Linked DNA regions of Homo sapiens: regions 1, 2 and 3 are each reported to be linked to region 4. The links are microRNA targets in miRTarBase. Many come from high-throughput screens and were not tested one by one. Region 4 holds a microRNA gene; each other region holds the end of a gene's coding sequence.
What was found. The annotated mature microRNA hsa-miR-3944-5p reads UGUGCAGCAGGCCAACCGAGA and lies in region 4 at 2,997-3,017, opposite strand. An mRNA with a match to its seed (bases 2 to 7 or 8) in the 3' UTR can be bound and repressed. Matches are read on the target gene's strand: a 7mer-m8 pairs with bases 2 to 8, a 7mer-A1 pairs with bases 2 to 7 and ends in A, and an 8mer does both.

Region 1 (4,059 bases), not on the chromosome of region 4:
ACATCTTCTTTATCCAATCTGTCATTGATGGACATGTGGGTTGGTTCTAAGTCTTTGACATTGTAAATAGTGCTGCAATAAACCTATGTGTGTATGTGTCTTTATAGTAGAATGATTTATAATCTTTTGGGTATATACCCGGTAATGGGATTGCTGGGCCAAATGGTATTTCTGGTTCTAGATCCTTGAGGAATTGCCACATTGTCTTCCACAATGGTTGAACTAATTTACAGTCCCACCATCAGTGTAAAAGCATTTTATTTCTCCACAGCCTCGCCAGCATCTATTGTTTCCTGACTTTTTAATAATCGTCCAAAAAGAGCCCGTATAGCCAAGACAATTGTAAGCAAAAAGAACAAAGCTGGAGGTATCATGCTATCTGACTTGAAACTATATTACAAGGCTACAGTAACCAAAACAGCATGGTACTGGTACCAAAACAGATATATAGACCAATGGAACAGAACAGAGACCTCAGAAATAACACTGCACATCTACAACCATCTGATCTTCAACAGAGCTGACAAAAACATGCCATGGGGAAAGATTCCCTACTTAATAAATTATGCTGAGAAAACTGGCTAGCCATGTGCAGAAAGCTGAAACTGGATCCCTTCCTTACACCTTATGCAAAAATTAACTCAAGATAGATTAAAGACTTAAAGGTAAAACCAAAACCATAAAAACCCTAGAAGAAAACCCAGGCAATACCATTCAGGACATAGGCATGGGCAAAAACCTCATGACTAAAACACCAAAAGCAATGGCAACAAAACCTAAAATTGACAAATGAGATCTAATTAAACTAAAGAGCTTCTGCACAGCAAAAGAAATTATCATCAGAGTGAACAGGCAACCTACAGAATGGAAGAAAATTTCTACAATCTACCTATCTGACAAAGGTCTAATATCAGAATCTACAAGGAACGTAAACAAATTTACAAGAAAAAACAACACCATCAAAAACTGGGCAAAGGATATGAACAGACACTTCTCAAAAGAAGACACTTATGAAGCCAAGAAGCATATGAAAAAAAGTTCATTATCACTGTTCATTAGAGAACTGCAAATCAAAACCGCAATGAGATACCATCTCATGCCAGTCAGAATGGCGATTATTAAAAAGTCATCTCATCTTTAATCTGAGGCTCATTCCTTTCATTTGTCCTCGGTAGACCAACCCAATTATCTTTGTCCTGGAATCAGCCGTGAAGTTGAAAAGTAATCCAGGAGACAAAGTGTCTATACATATTCCTAGCAGATTTTAGTCCTATGGAAAAAAATACATTTAGAGAAAGTGGAATTTTCCTAAGGAGAACAATGTAATTTTAAAACAAAAATAAAAGGGAACAAATTTTCACCAAATAATTAAGCCATAAAAAATATATGCATTATTTAAGTAAAAAGCTTTATTTTTTTCCCTCAGTGTCTGAATCTTCTTTATTGTTTACCAGGATTCATGATTCCTTTTGTAACTTGTTCTCAGTCATTTATTCAGTTGAGTAATTACACTTTGTCAGACAAATATCTAAAGTTTTATTATGTAACTTGCAGATTTTCAGGACGAGTGAAGGAGGAAAATGGCAGAAGAGTTCAGGAAAGACAAAAATGCAAGACTGTGTCTAAGTTTATGCCTCTCTTGAGTTTGATGATCCAATTTTAATTTAATCATTTGAGTATCTCTTAGGGATTCTTCCTCCACAGTGGAGGAAAGTGGGCTCTACTGAATTCATTGGAACACCGTCCTTTAAGGAGAAAGAAACTTTGAACAATAGACGTCTTTTTCAACAACTACTGCCAATGTTTTGAAAGTTGTCATTTGTTTTCAGCTAGATAACAAAGGCTGAAGAGTTGCCTTCTTTCCAATTGATCCGATGGTTTACTGGCGCTTTTAAAACACATTACATAAATCTTTAGAAATCTTTTGTGAAGGTAAATTCAGTATTTTTAAGCAGTGATCCTTTGCTCTCATGATTCATGGCATGGAGACAGCACCCAGCTTTCCTGAATCAAGGTGAACGTTGATATTCAGTTTTCAAGGTAACACACCATATAAGGCCTCCATCGTCCTGAGGAGACCTGATATATTGCCTTTTCCTGACAAAAAGTCTCACTTGCAGATGTACCTCAATTAGTGCAAACTTTTTTTTTCTTTCTATTTTTTGGGGGGGGTGGAGGATGGGGTCTTGCTCTGTTGCCCAGGCTGGAGTGCAGTGGTGTGATCAAAGCTCACTGCAGCCTTGACCTCCTGGGCTCAAATGATTCTCCTGCCTCAGCCTCCCAAGTAGCTGAGACCACAGGCATGTGCCACCATGCCTGGCTAATTTTTTAAAAATCTTTTATGTTTTGTAGAGATGGGGGTCGCCCTGTGTTGCCCAAGTTAGTCTGGAACTCCTGGCCTCAAGGGTTCGTTTGTCCCTCCTTGGCCTCCGAAAGTGTTGGGATTATAGGTGTGAGCCACCATGCCCAGCCCAAACTCATTTTTTAATGCAGTGATAGTGTATGCAAGTATATATATGTATATAGATATAAATGATCATGTAAAAAGGAGTTATTTCTTGTGTTACAATTTCTCCTATAGCAAACACAGATGACTAAGCTAAAAATATTTCAACTCAGGCTCAGTGGCTCTTCTCAAAGGTATCAAAAGAACTTAGGTCTCAAAGGTGGTACTTTGGCCAAACTGTTTCCTAATCAAACGACCAGTTAGTTGGTCAGTGACTGGGACTCTGCTCCATCATGCTCTCTCCATTCTCCACCCAGCACCATTTTCTTTGGAATTCTATGCCACTCAAAGACTGTTGTTGAGCAAGCCATGCTGCAGGGGTACTGGTGTCCAGGATTAAGGCTTAGTGCATCACCTCTCTGAGCAACCCACCGAGATCCTTGCTGATGCCTCCACATTCTCATCAGTGAGCCAGCCCTTTCCCAGGCTATAATGTCATGTCAGGGATTGCTCTTGTCTGCACCCTATATTGGGAGCCACAGAGTGGCATGTCTGAGGAAGCCTTTGCACAGGTGAACGGACAGGGAAGGCAGGCAGGCCATCCATTTGTCCATCAATATGCAGGGCCTGCTATGTGCCGGGCTTCATGCCACGATACACTATGTGTGATAAGTCTCACAGAAGCCCATGTCCATCAGAAGCTTTTCTGCTCCTCAAGGCAAGAGAGAAATTTTCGTGCACTCAGACTTTGGGAGGGCACTCATGTCTTTCACCTTGTTCTATGAGTTCTCCAATCCTTAGTGATTTATTTATTTTTTGATTGATTGGTGATCCATGCTAAGTTACGTCCTTTCTGGAGCTCAGTATAAGATGAAAAAATTCCATGAGCTGGGTCAGAAATAGACAGTAGCTTTTGCTTTCATGTAGACCTCCTTTTATCAGGGATGGAAGGAACAGTACAGGATTGTGGCCACAGACACTGAGGATGGCTCCTGGGTGTGGACAGGGCACAGACAAGGGCCTGGTCTGAGGGGGTCCTTTGTGCAAGGTGGGACAGAGAGGGGCCCAGAGCCACGTCTGTCTGCAATAACCACTCCAAGTTTGGTTGCTGCAGGAGCAGGTCCCTGCTCAGAGAGTTCATCCTGAGTAACGTGAAAAGAAAGGAGAAAATGACATATAACTGCACAAATGGAAAGCTAGGATTTTCCTACCTTCTGGAAAAACAAGGTTTGTATCTTTTTTAACAAGTAGGAACTTTTATGTATAGAATTATCCAAGAATAATGTATTTACAATGTGCATGGTCTTGATTGTGTTAATGAAGCTATTATTCACACATAAAATGAAAATCATCTGGCTTTGGAGGCCCACTTTGCTGATGGTGTTTTTTTCTGAGACAAGCAATATGATCAGTTATGCAAGCAGGAAGAGAAGAATCAGTGCCAGGGCACAGTGGCTGGGCCAGACAGGCGGGGCAGTGCTGGCGCGGCCCTTCAGCATGCACATCACCCTGGACCAGGATCCGTTGTTGGGCAGCGGGGTGATGCCCACCACATTGCACATGACATTGTAGACGTCCACCGACCTGATAGGAGCAGCTCTGAAGTTGGATTT
Region 2 (4,059 bases), not on the chromosome of region 4:
TTTAAGCTTTTCACAAAGTAATATACACCAGAATATTCCCTCTTCCATTTGAGCAGAAGCTGGTGGGGCTGAGTTGGAGAAACAGAGAAATGATGAAATGTAATTGGGCCAAAATTTTATTTAACTGTGTAGAACAGAAGTTATTTTGAAGTCAGAGTTACTTGTGAATATATAAAAAGTGAGGTCTATTTATAGTTGGCAGTGGGGGGAATTTTCAGAAACATGATTAAAAGGGGAACTTATTTGAAGCTTAGATCAAAGGAAAGATGGATTAGCTCTATAGAAATTGGAATGAAATGTTTTAACAAAAATAAACAAAAACAGGAAAATACAGGCTCAGAAACTCTTAAAATTTGGCTGCCAAATTTTATTGGCTTTTATGTGTCTTTTTTTACTCTTCTTGGACCATTCATTTTTTTAGTTTCAGAAATCCTATCCTGAAGTCTATCAAGAACGATTTCCTACACCAGAAAGTGCAGCACTTCTGTTTCCTGAAAAACCCAAACCGAAACCACAGCTGCTAATGTGGGCACTAAAGAAGCCTTTCCAACCATTTCAAAGAACTAGAAGTTTTCGAATGTAATAATACTTCCACAGCAACAGGTGCTAGAGACCACTGTTGTTGTTTTGAGTGAATGGTGGTTAGGAGAAAGACTTTGGTGGTGGAAGAAAGAAAAGCATAAAACAAAGACTACTGAAATATAGATAAAGATTGCCTTAGTTTTTAAAAATGTTTGGCCATTAGTATTTTTATAAAACTCAATGCTAGTTTTAAAGTGTATAAATTGGTTAAAATTTATGAGTCAAATATATAGTGATAATGTTAACATGTTTGTAATTGCTACAGAATTTAAGGGTATTTTTATCTCTGTGCTTTCTTTTTCATGGTGTTTATTAAATAATTGTGTATATACATCCTAGCTACTGATATCTTTATTATAGCCTTAAGACTTAATTTTAAGTCTTAAAAATAGCGTGTATACTTGAATAAGAAAGACACTGGGTACTGTTACTGTGATGCTATTGACTTAGTAGCCAATTATCATTTCTCCTGTATAAATTCCAGTTTTTATTGCTGCACATAAATTTTTTAATGTCTTATATTGTGATAGCTATGTCTTTTATTGCAGATTTATTGGATGTTATGACAGATTTTACTAAAGCTAGTGTTTTTATAACATATATATTAGTTGATGTTTACCTATAAGTGGAGTAGATTTTCATCTGCCTGCAATGGTATAATTTCAGTCTTAGCTAAAAATGGAAAGTTGAACTGGATAAATTCTTTGGGTACCCTTAGACCTCTGATTCTAAGTCAAATGCAAATGGGTTAAATAAAATGAGACTACTTCCTTTATAAATATATTTTCATCCTTTTGAAAGTAAGTGAAATGTAAATAAACTTATTTTTTTTAAAAATGCCATACCTCGTGTTTCTTTTTTGGCATTTATTTAGATCAGTTAGAGAGCATCCTCAAATGCCTTTGCCAATGGTCTTCATCAGTCATTTATTTCTATGAGAAAATGAAAAGTAAGATTTGGGCTTTTGTACTGACTGGTCTTTAGGTGAGCACTTTGCCAATTTTTTAGCATTGCTTTGTCCTTTTGTAAAATTGTGGTGCACTTGGATTATGGAGCATCTGAAAGTCTTCCTCTGAGCGCAATTACCCAGAAAGCTGAGAGCAACACCCACTAATTGGCTTACAGTACTCCTTGGACTGATTTTTCCTTGCACTTAAGATTTGCTCCTGTTCTCTTGTAGCAAAATACCTCCTACATCTGATGCAGATTTTGCTTTTAAAAATGGACCAAAGTATTCCTATTGGTTTGGGTACCACCTTACATTCCAAATACATAATGTAATGGGAGATTTTTAGTGTTTCAGGATTCATTCTCAGACTTTGGCATTCTGTTTAGAGCCAAGAATAATTCTTCTTTCTGCTCTATTTTCACTCCGAGGTAGAGTTTATTTTTCAGAATCTCTTTTCCTGTTGCTTGTCTTTGGAAGTATATGTGGTTGTTTTCTTTCCTTTTTTTTTTAAGATTACTTTTTTAAAAAAATATAACATATTTATGGAGAGATCATAAAACATAAGCACCAATTAAGTGTGAAATTGATGAATAGATAATAGCAGTTATCCAAAGTGGTTGTCCCAATTAACGCTCCCATTAACAGTGTATGAGAACTCCTTTTGTTTAATATCCTCACCGAAACTTGCTATCGTCAGAGTTTGAAATGTTGTCAATGTGGTGGTTATTAATAGTGTCTGATTATGGTTTTATTTTGCATTTCCATGATTATTAATATGGCTGAACATTTTTTTCCATTTTTTTGACTTTTTCGTCTTTGTACAAATTTTGGTATCAGATTGTCAAGCCTGCATACACACACACACACATGCAGAGACACACACTCACCCTGTTGAGTTTTTTTTTTTAATTTTGATTGTATTATATGTATAAATCAATTTGCAGAGAATTGCTGTCTACAATATTAGGTCTTCTAGTCCATGACCATGGTTTACCTTTCCATTTTATTTGAAATAAATGAGAAAAAAAGTTGCTTTTTTCTGTGAAGATTTACAAATCTTTTGTTAGATTTGTTCCCAAGTATTTGATACTTTAAAAAAAGTATCAAAATTTTCAAAGACTGTAGTACCCATTTCCTGTTTCAACAGTTACTCAGCTGATCAATGTTGACGTTTAATTCTTTTGTAAATGCTGGTGTTGTAAATTTCCTTATAGTGTTTGTTGCTTCTGTATGGTATAAAACTGATTTTTCCTGAGTTTTGTTTACAGTGAACCTTGCTAGACTTGTTAATTCTAAACATTTAGTATGATTCTTTGGCATTGTCTACGTATTAGGAAAAAAACAGCTTTTGCTTTTCCGTTCCATGGTAGACAGCATCTATATTGTCCTCAGTGATCCTTGCCTCCTGGTATTTAATGCCTTGTGTAATTTCCTGTCCTTGAGTGTGGGTGGAGCTAAAATGACACATTTCTAAATAATAGAATATATCATCAGTGATGGGGTATCACTTCTCAGATTAGATTCCAAAACTCTGGCTTCCATCTTGCTTGTCTTCCTTCTTATTCTCTCCCTGGCTTGCTCTGAGGAAAGCCAGCTGTCATGTTGTGAGCTGCCCTTTCAGAGGCCCACCAGGCAAGGAACTGATGTCTCTGGCCAACAGCCAGCGTGGACATGAAGCCTGCCAACAGCTTTACGAGTGATCTTGGAAGTGGATCTTCCCTTGGTCAAACCTTGAGGTGACTCTACCCTAGCTGACACCTTGATTGGAGACTTTTGAGAAACTCTAAGCCAGAGGACTTAGCAAAGCTGTGCCTGGATTCCTTATTCACAGAAACTGTGATATAATAAATGTTTATTGTTTTAACCCACTTAGTTGAAGAATAACTTGTTATAAAGTGACCTAGATACAATATACTTTCCAATCTCCATACCCTTCCCTCCCTTCCCTTCCGTCCCTTCCCTCCCTTCTCTCCCTTCCCTTCCCTTCCTTTCCTCCCTTCCCTCCCTTCCCTCCCTTCCTTTCCTTCTTTTCTTTCCTTTCCTTCCTTTCCTTCCTTCCTTTCCCTGGCTCCCTCCATCCTTTCCTTCTTTTTTGTCTCAGGACACTGGAGATCTTCAGTACAGCAGTTCCCTGGTTCCCATTTATCTGCTGTTTCACTTTGTACAGTTTCAGTAAGCCACGCTCAACCACAGTCAGAAAATATTAAATGGAAATTTCCAGAAATAAACAAGTTTTAAATTGTGTGCTGTTCTTATAGCATGATGAAATCTTGGACTGTCCTGCTTTGTCCACTCTGAAAATGACTTATCCCTTTGTTTCATGGATCCATGCCTGGTAGACCAGGTACATTGTTAATGAGCAGTAATATTTTGAAAGGAATCTTTTTTTTTTTTTTTTTTTTTTTGAGCAGCAGATCTCAATAGTGGGCTTAAAATATTGAGTAAACTATGCTGTAAACAGATGTACTGTTATCCAGGCTTTGCAGAGCACAGGCAGAGTAGATATAGTGTATTTTTTAAGGGCCCAA
Region 3 (4,059 bases), not on the chromosome of region 4:
CTGTCAGCCTTCACGGAGGTCTGGCCTCACAGGCCAAGGGCTTCTGGCTCACAGGGCTCCCTGTGCTGTGGGGAGATGCCAAGGTGATGGTCAGGACACAGCAGCCACTTGGAGAAGAGCCCCTTATGCTGACTTTTGGAGCCCACTCCCACTTTGCTCCCTCTGGCCTCTTCTTCCCTTTATAGCGGTTGGATTGCAGCCCTGTCTACACTGGATAATCATTCCCTGGCCATATCAGTCATCATGATGGTGGTGGCTGGCTTCTTCACCCTCTGTGCCGTGCTCTCAGTCTTCCTCCTGCAGCGGGTGAGTGGTGTGGGCAGGGCTGACAGCAAATGGGAGGAGGCAGGCAACCGTTTCCTGCCCTTGCCACGAGATGTTTTTCACCACTGCAGTTGGGCATCCTAGGCCCCCAAAGGTCCAGTACCTTTCTCCAGGGATCTGGGTGGGGGGTCAGGCAGTGCCAGGCTTCTGGTGACCCCTTTGGGAGTATAACCTGGATGGCTGGCTTCCTGGTGGGCCCAAAGGACAGGCTTCTCTCACCCCACCCCTCTTCGCCAGGTGCACTCCCTCTACCGACGGACAGGGGCCAGCTTCCAGCAGGCCCAGGAGGAGTTTTCCCAGGGCATCTTCAGCAGCAGAACCTTCCACAGAGCTGCTTCATCTGCTGCCCAAGGAGCCTTCCAGGGGAATTAGTCCTCCTCTCTTCTCTCCCCCTCAGCCTTTCTCTCGCCTGCCTTCTGAGCTGCACTTTCCGTGGGTGCCTTATGTGGTGGTGGTTGTGCCCAGCACAGACCTGGCAGGGTTCTTGCCGTGGCTCTTCCTCCTCCCTCAGCGACCAGCTCTCCCTGGAACGGGAGGGACAGGGAATTTTTTCCCCCTCTATGTACAAAAAAAAACAAAGCTCTCTTTCCTTCTCTGGTGATGGTTTGGTAGGATTCTTTTGTCTCTGGAAGCAGTGGGACTGAAGTTCTCTTCGTCCTGTGCACACACAGACACCCCCACACAGTTGGGATCACAGGCTGACCTGGGCCCATCCCAGCTGGAGCTTTCTGCCAGGGTCCTGGGCCTTGACTCCCCCACCCTGCAGGCCTGGCCTGAATCTGGCTTCTTAGACACAGCCCAGTCCTTCCTGCCTGGGCTGGGAATAAGCCTCTCACAGGTTCTGGTGGACAGATCTGTTCCCCAGGTCACTCCAGTGGTCTCCAGGCTTCCAGAGAAGGCTGGTTGCCTCAAGCTCTTCTCTGCCTCATAAACGGATCCAGAGAAGGCTGGTTGCCTTAAGCTCTTCCCTGCCTCGTGTTCCTGAGAAACGGATTAATAGCCCTTTATCCCCCTGCACCCTCCTGCAGGGGATGGCACTTTGAGCCCTCTGGAGCCCTCCCCTTGCTGAGCCTTACTCTCTTCAGACTTTCTGAATGTACAATGCCGTTGGTTGGGATTTGGGGACTGGAAGGGACCAAGGACACTGACCCCAAGCTGTCCTGCCTAGCGTCCAGCGTCTTCTAGGAGGGTGGGGTCTGCCTGTCCTGGTGTGGTTGGTTTGGCCCTGTTTGCTGTGACTACCCCCCCCCCTCCCCGAACCGAGGGACGGCTGCCTTTGTCTCTGCCTCAGATGCCACCTGCCCCGCCCATGCTCCCCATCAGCAGCATCCAGACTTTCAGGAAGGGCAGGGCCAGCCAGTCCAGAACCGCATCCCTCAGCAGGGACTGATAAGCCATCTCTCGGAGGGCCCCCTAATACCCAGTGGAGTCTGGTTCACACCCTGGGGGGTGTGTCACTGTGATGGGACACGTAGGAGTCCACCCTTAAAACCAGCACCCTGTCCCTCGAGGCTGCCGAGTGGGTGTGTGGACTGGGGTGCCTTCCCACAAAACTAGCCTCCGGCTCTGGGCCCGAGACAGCCGCAGGCCCCAGCCACTGAATGATACTGGCAGCGGCTGGGGTTTTATGAACTCCTTTCTGGTATTTTTTCCCCTCTATGTACAAATGTATATGTTACGTCTCAATTTTTGTGCTTAAGTAAAAATAAAAACATTTTCAGACAACACGGGTCCACATGTCTGGTGGACTTGGGAGGACGGGGCAGCCCACAGGATTAGGGGCTGGGCGCCGCTGCTAAGATTGGAGAGCGGGGACAGTTAAGATGCAATAAATAGGTCAAGGCCCTTCCTCAGAAAAGTGAAAAGCAGCTGGGAGGCCTGGGAAGCCAACGCGGCCTCTTCCAAAGGCGCCTTCTCGTGCCAGTAGCTCTCCTTTCAGAGCTGCGGGTCCTGGGGAGGGGCCCTGGGAGCCTCCCGGACGCCGTCGCCCCCACACACGCCCGCTCCGCCGCCCGCGCCCTCACGTGGGCGATCTCTAGACGCCTCTGCGCCCGCTAGGAGTCCCCGGAGACCACGCCGGCCGTCCTCCGTTGTTAACTTCTAGGCTCGCGGGGCCTCCGTATCCCCACGTGGGCCCTGCAGGAACTGGCGGGGCGCGTGACCCGGCGAGGCCCAGAGACAGGGGAGGGGCGCCGGGAGCCGGGCGGATCCGCGTCCCCGATGCGCGCTGCATTTCCGGCGGGCGGCGCTGGGGGCAGCGTGGAGCCACCCAGTGCTCGGCCCGCCCCGCAACCCGCCGGAACCGCCGCCCGCAGCGAGGAAGCGCCCGCGCGGGCGCAGGCGGCCGGAATGGCGGGGCCCGGCTGGGGTCCCCCGCGCCTGGACGGCTTCATCCTCACCGAGCGCCTGGGCAGCGGCACGTACGCCACGGTGTACAAGGCCTACGCCAAGGTGGGTGCCGGCCGATGGCCCCGTGCCCGCCCGAGCTAGCTCGGCTGGTGCCGGCCGGGGAGACTCTGAGAGGTTAGCGACAGTGTGGGAATAGTTAGGGGCGGGAGGCCGGCCTCGCCCCAGCTGACCCTCGGCGGAGGTTGGAGCCGACTGCCACGCTTAGGTCTTAAAGAGCGCACCTGCACCCACCTGCAGGGTCAGTGGCTGAAGAACAGGCTCAAAACAGGTTACCTGGTGGGCTGGGAGGAGTCTGGGACTGGAGCCAGTTGGGAGGCAGAGTGGGCGGTTCTAGAACCCTGAGTGACATGCCTCTGCCGGGAGCACTCCAGAATGCAAAGAAATGGATCAGCTAGCCGAGGGTTGGAGAAGACCAGGCTGAGGCTGTGTCGGGAAGCCAGGATTCCAGAATCAGCATTCCTCACTGGCCTCACAAGGGAAAGCTGGGAAGCCCGGTGCTGGTGTGCAGTAGGTAGACCCGGGGAGGGGCGGGGTGGGGGAACAGAGGGAACCAGATAGAGCCTTTCCAGTCAGACAAGGGTCCTGGCCCCCTCAAGGCAGAGTCCCCAAATCTCCTGTCTCGCAGAAGGACACTCGTGAAGTGGTAGCCATAAAGTGTGTAGCCAAGAAAAGTCTGAACAAGGCATCGGTGGAGAACCTCCTCACGGAGATTGAGATCCTCAAGGGCATTCGACATCCCCACATTGTGCAGCTGAAAGACTTTCAGGTGTGAGCCTGGGGCGGGGCCGCTGCCAAAGGGAGCTGGAGAAGGGACACTCTCTTCAGGCCGCCTCTCTGCCTCTAAACACAGTGGGACAGTGACAATATCTACCTCATCATGGAGTTTTGCGCAGGGGGCGACCTGTCTCGCTTCATCCATACCCGCAGGATTCTGCCTGAGAAGGTGGCGCGTGTCTTCATGCAGCAATTAGGTAAAGGCCTGTGACACCAGCCTGACACTCTGTCCCTTGTTCTCTGCCCCCCACCATCCCACCCCTCCCCCAGGCTTAGAGCCTTGGCACGCATTGCAGCTGCCTCCTGCACAGCCTGAAATTTTATGGTCCTGTTTATCTCATACACTCAACCCTTGCTCAAGGACGCTGTGGGAGAGATGAGGGGGTAACCCCTCTGTGGGGTGTTCAGGCTTCCATACATAGAACATAATATAAGGACCTTGTAGAACATTCCAGAGTCCTGTAGGTAGGACTCAAGTGCTGTGCCAAGGAAAAGAGCAGGATCTCAAGGGCTGGGGCATCCAGAGAAGCTTCTGAGAGGTGGGGAGACTTG
Region 4 (4,067 bases):
GCCATGGACACGAATCACAAGCAAGAACTGTCATGGTTAGAAGCCAGCGTTACCCAGGACCAGCCTCTCCCAACACCATCAGATGTGGGCACAGTCACAGTCCCGGGACTCTAAGGCCCCCCCCAAGCTCTGTCACAACCACTCTAGCCTCCGTGGCTGTCCACAGAGGGACCACTGACCAGCCATGGGGCTGTCCATCCAGGGCCTCTGGTCAGATATGAGCTGTGGGCCCTGAGACACAGGCAGATTTTGAGTAATTACCTAAGGCATCTATGCCAGAGACAGTGTCACTCTTTACCTGGGATGGTTCCTATTAAGATCTCCGGCTGTGCAAACTGGGCCTTCTCACCGGCATAGATGATATCACACATCATGGCAAGCTCACAGCCCCCGCCAAACTGTAAAACATTCGGCATCAGGAGAGTCTTACCAGGGGAACCCAGTCAGAAATCACTCTGCTTGCTTATTCAAATTTTCCATTTAAAAGAAACAGTGTTGGGGGTATGACAAAGACTAACATGGTGGCACCAAACTAGATAATTGTTATGATAAGTTAACTACAGATGGTTGATGCTGTTTACCAGGGGCTGGCAAACATCCTGTAAAGGACCATGAGGGTCTTACAGGCTCTGCTGCCACGACTCAACTCTGCTGCTGTGGCCGAAATGCAGCCACAGAGACTAGGTGCACAGGTGGGTGTGGCTGTGCCGGGAAAACTCCATCCGCAGACCCCTGGCTTACACGGCAGGGAGTGTCATGAAATGATCACAATCCGCAGACCCCTGGTTTACACGGCAGGGAGCGTCATGAAATGATCACAATCCGCAGACCCCTGGCTTACACGGCAGGGAGCGTCATGAAATGATCACAATCCGCAGACCCCTGGCTTACACGGCAGGGAGCGTCATGAAATGATCACATTGCCTTCCCTATAGGCCAAGATCAGTCTCAGCACTTCAAATAGTCCCAGGACACAGAGCTTTCAAGGGGAGCAAAAGAAGCTAGTTTATAGATGTAGCCAAAGCCAACACCTCTCTTCCCCCACCCTGGAAGAGAGGCTTGCTGGGGAGAAGCTGTCAGGTGAACAGCCACGAAAAAAGCAGATGCCAGGAGGTGTCCTCTCCACACAGTTCCTGGCTCTTTAGCACCATGAGGCAGGAAAGGAGGCTGCTGGCCTGGGAACTAAAGGCCTCTTCAAAATAAAAATCTGTTATGCTGTGTATGCACAGCACGGTTCCTTCAACCACGAGAGGAGGAGACTCTTGGCAGCAACACTCACGGCATAGCCATTGACAGCAGCGATGACTGGCTTCTTGACCTGGGTGAGGTGGTCCCAGTGCTTCAAGAACTTGCTGGAGTAACAGTCCTGGAAACTCAGGTTCTGCATTTCCTTGATATCAGCTCCAGCTAGCAGGAGTGGAAAGGAGGTTCCAGTTACCAGAGAGCAGAGAGCCCACCCATCCTATATCTCTCAGACCAACAAGGAACTTCAGAGCACACCAGACACAGGCAGTGGGGTTGCTGGGCACGGCTGACACCAGGCCACGTGGACAGCTGTAGGGACGCTGTAATGCCAGCTAGAACAGAAGTCACGCAGAGGGGCCCTGAGGCAGGCAGCAGGTGCAAGGGAGGCGCCCACAGAGGCTAGGCATATTTGTCAGGGCATAAGCCCTTGACACACACAAAGCCTGACTGCCAAGGACCTAAACCCCTTTGAAGAAGCTGTTTTGCTGGTGGAGCACATGCAGCTCTCTGGCATACACAAAGCTGCTCATGCAAGCCGTTCCCATGACCGTCTTCACTCGATATTTGAGGAAGTCCCCAGTCGCATGCCTCTGCCATCACAGAGGCGCAAATCTGTCTGGAGGCTTCTCCCAAGGCCATACGTGCCTCCCACATCTGCCCAGACACAAAGGCCTCTGCTGCCGCGCGTACCTGCAAAGGCCTTATCCCCGCCGGTGAGGACAATGGCCCCCACGGCCGGGTCCTCCTCGAAGGTCTTCAGGGCCTGGTTGAGCTCGTCAATCAGGCCATCGCAAAGTGCATTGAGGGCCTTGGGGCGGTTCAGTTGGATCAACCCCACGGTGTTATTCTTCCCTCTTTTTTCTGCGATGATGTACTCAAAGTTAGCACCTGGAGCAAGAAGGCAAAAAGGGGTATCTATTCACACAGGTATCAAACTGGGGAGAGTGGGGGAAGGGATGTGGCCCCATCGGTGGATACAGTGTGACCCCAAGAGGCCCTCTGAGGGCTCCCTGCCGAGTCCTCAGTGGCTCCAGGTGTAGCTCTCAGCCACAAGGATAGATGGTAGCCTTGGTACCATTCTCTCTGCTTTCACATGTGTTTGAACATGTCCTAAAGAAAATCCCCGGGCCGGGCGCGGTGGCTCACGCCTGTAATCCCAGCAATTTGGGAGGCCGAAGCGGTCGAATCACAAGGTCAGGAGATCGAGACCATCCTGGCTAACACGGTGAAACGCCGTCTCTACCTAAAATACAAAAAATTAGTCGGGTGTTGTGGCGGGCGCCTGTAGTCCCAGCTACTGGGGAGGCTGAGGCAGGAGAGTGGCATGAACCCAGGAGGTGGAGCTTGCAGTGAGCTGAGATCATGCCACTGCACTCCAGCCTGGGTGACAGAGTGAGACTCCGTCTCAAAAAAAAAGAAAAGAAAAAAAGAAAAATCCCCAGCACAGAACACAGCCCACAGCCGCTTTCCTTCTCCTAATATGCCTTGGTCAGCTCTTCCCAGGACACCACTCTGGAGACAGCCCTGGACTCTGCTGAGACAAGGCACCAGGAAACACCTTCTTTCAACAAATGCCAACAGGTGAGGGGGTGTAAGGCAGCTCCTTGCACTTGGTACCGCCCCAGTGCCAAGACCTCTGGCCAACTGGACGCAGGGTGGGGGATGTGAAAATCCTGGGTGTTCCTGCAGCATTAAGATCAGGCACAGGTCCGGAGCAGCAGGCCAGCCCGAAAATGGGAGACGCAGGCGCTTCTCGGTTGGCCTGCTGCACAGGACCTGCGCCTGCTGGGTGGACAGCAAGGTGGGAAGGAGACAAAGGACAATGGCGTTCCAGGGGTGAGAAGGTGAACCTGAAAAGACAAAGGTAGCCTGTGTGTTGGATGCTTGCCTCCGTTAGTGGCAGAGCAGGGATCATAGTCCCTGTGCTATGGGTTTCTTTTTTTTGGAGACCGAGTCTCACTCTATTGCCCAGGCTGGAGTGCAGTGGCGCAATCTTGGCTCACTGCGACCTCTGCCTACAGGGTTCAGGTGATTCTCCTGCCTCAGCCTCCCGAGTAGCTGGGACTACGGTCACACACCACCACACCTGGCTAATTTTTGTATTTTTAGTAGACATGGGGTTTCACCATGTTGGCCAAGGTGGTCTTGATGACCTCAGGTGATCCACCTGCCTCAGCCTCCCAAAGTGCTGGGATTATAGGCATTAGCCACTGTGCCCCGCCGTATCCTGTGGGTTTCTAGGGGTAACTGGAAGATCACAGGTGAAGTGTCTGGCAGCAGTGCCCGCCATGCAAGATCCAGGAAAGGGCTGCTGTCAGGGTGGAGAAGCCGAAGGCCAAGGAGAGCATGGAGATGAAACCAACACAACTCAGTGGTCCACTGCTACACAGGGTGAGGGAGGAAGAGGAAGCAAGAGTTCTTCCCCAGCCCAAGGCATGGCCCAAGATTCCTCAGATACTAGAGCCGGTGATGGCCGCTCATGAGTGGGGCCCCGGGTGAGCCACGAGGGAGGAAGAGGGCAGCCCCCTGTGGCTGGGGAGGAGGTGTCAGCTTTTCCCTTAGGACCCTCTGAGGGGTGGCCCTGGTCAGGAGGCACCCAGGACAAAATGCACCTGCATCTCCTGTTCTCGGGCTGGCCGGCTGCACAGGAGCTACGCCTGCTCTTAGAGCCGAGGGAACACCCCGGATTTTTACAACCCCCACCCTGCGCCCAGTTGGCCAGAGGTCTTGGCACTGGGGCAGTACCAGCCAGCCGCCGGGCCTCCCGCAGGACGTGGCCTGGTGAGAGTGGCCTCCTGCAGAGCCAGGCAGGGGGTGGGGGT

Region 1: miRTarBase lists ENPP6 as a target of hsa-miR-3944-5p. The part of its 3' UTR that is shown has no 7-base or 8-base seed match.
Region 2: the mRNA of DEPDC1B is a reported target of hsa-miR-3944-5p. Seed matches in the 3' UTR shown: 8mer at 1,075-1,082.
Region 3: the mRNA of SCAMP2 is a reported target of hsa-miR-3944-5p. Seed matches in the 3' UTR shown: 7mer-m8 at 745-751.

What each region holds. Positions count from the first base shown.
Region 1 is chr4:184,087,319-184,091,377 of GRCh38, forward strand. ENPP6 (ectonucleotide pyrophosphatase/phosphodiesterase 6) reads right to left here. Exons shown (of 8, transcript NM_153343.4): 8 at 1,388-4,059. The coding sequence ends at 3,859. The region is part of intron 1 of LOC124900826 (a long non-coding RNA gene); the gene reads left to right. Among named protein-coding and RNA genes, the nearest start is that of ENPP6, 130 kb to the right of the region's middle.
Region 2 is chr5:60,594,277-60,598,335 of GRCh38, reverse strand. DEPDC1B (DEP domain containing 1B) reads left to right here. Exons shown (of 11, transcript NM_018369.3): 11 at 422-1,424. The coding sequence ends at 583. Among named protein-coding and RNA genes, the nearest start is that of DEPDC1B, 100 kb to the left of the region's middle.
Region 3 is chr15:74,841,720-74,845,778 of GRCh38, reverse strand. It overlaps SCAMP2 (secretory carrier membrane protein 2), which reads left to right. Exons shown (of 9, transcript NM_005697.5): 8 at 186-306; 9 at 562-2,049. The coding sequence ends at 696. It overlaps ULK3 (unc-51 like kinase 3), which reads left to right and starts at 2,623. Exons shown (of 16, transcript NM_001099436.4): 1 at 2,623-2,775; 2 at 3,359-3,499; 3 at 3,584-3,704. The coding sequence starts at 2,674. RefSeq lists a silencer at 2,142-2,861 and enhancers at 2,124-3,035, 3,104-3,629.
Region 4 is chr10:133,368,625-133,372,691 of GRCh38, forward strand. It overlaps MIR3944 (microRNA 3944), which reads right to left and starts at 3,039; the gene lies at 2,932-3,039. It overlaps ECHS1 (enoyl-CoA hydratase, short chain 1), which reads right to left. Exons shown (of 8, transcript NM_004092.4): 2 at 1,936-2,133; 3 at 1,280-1,407; 4 at 299-398.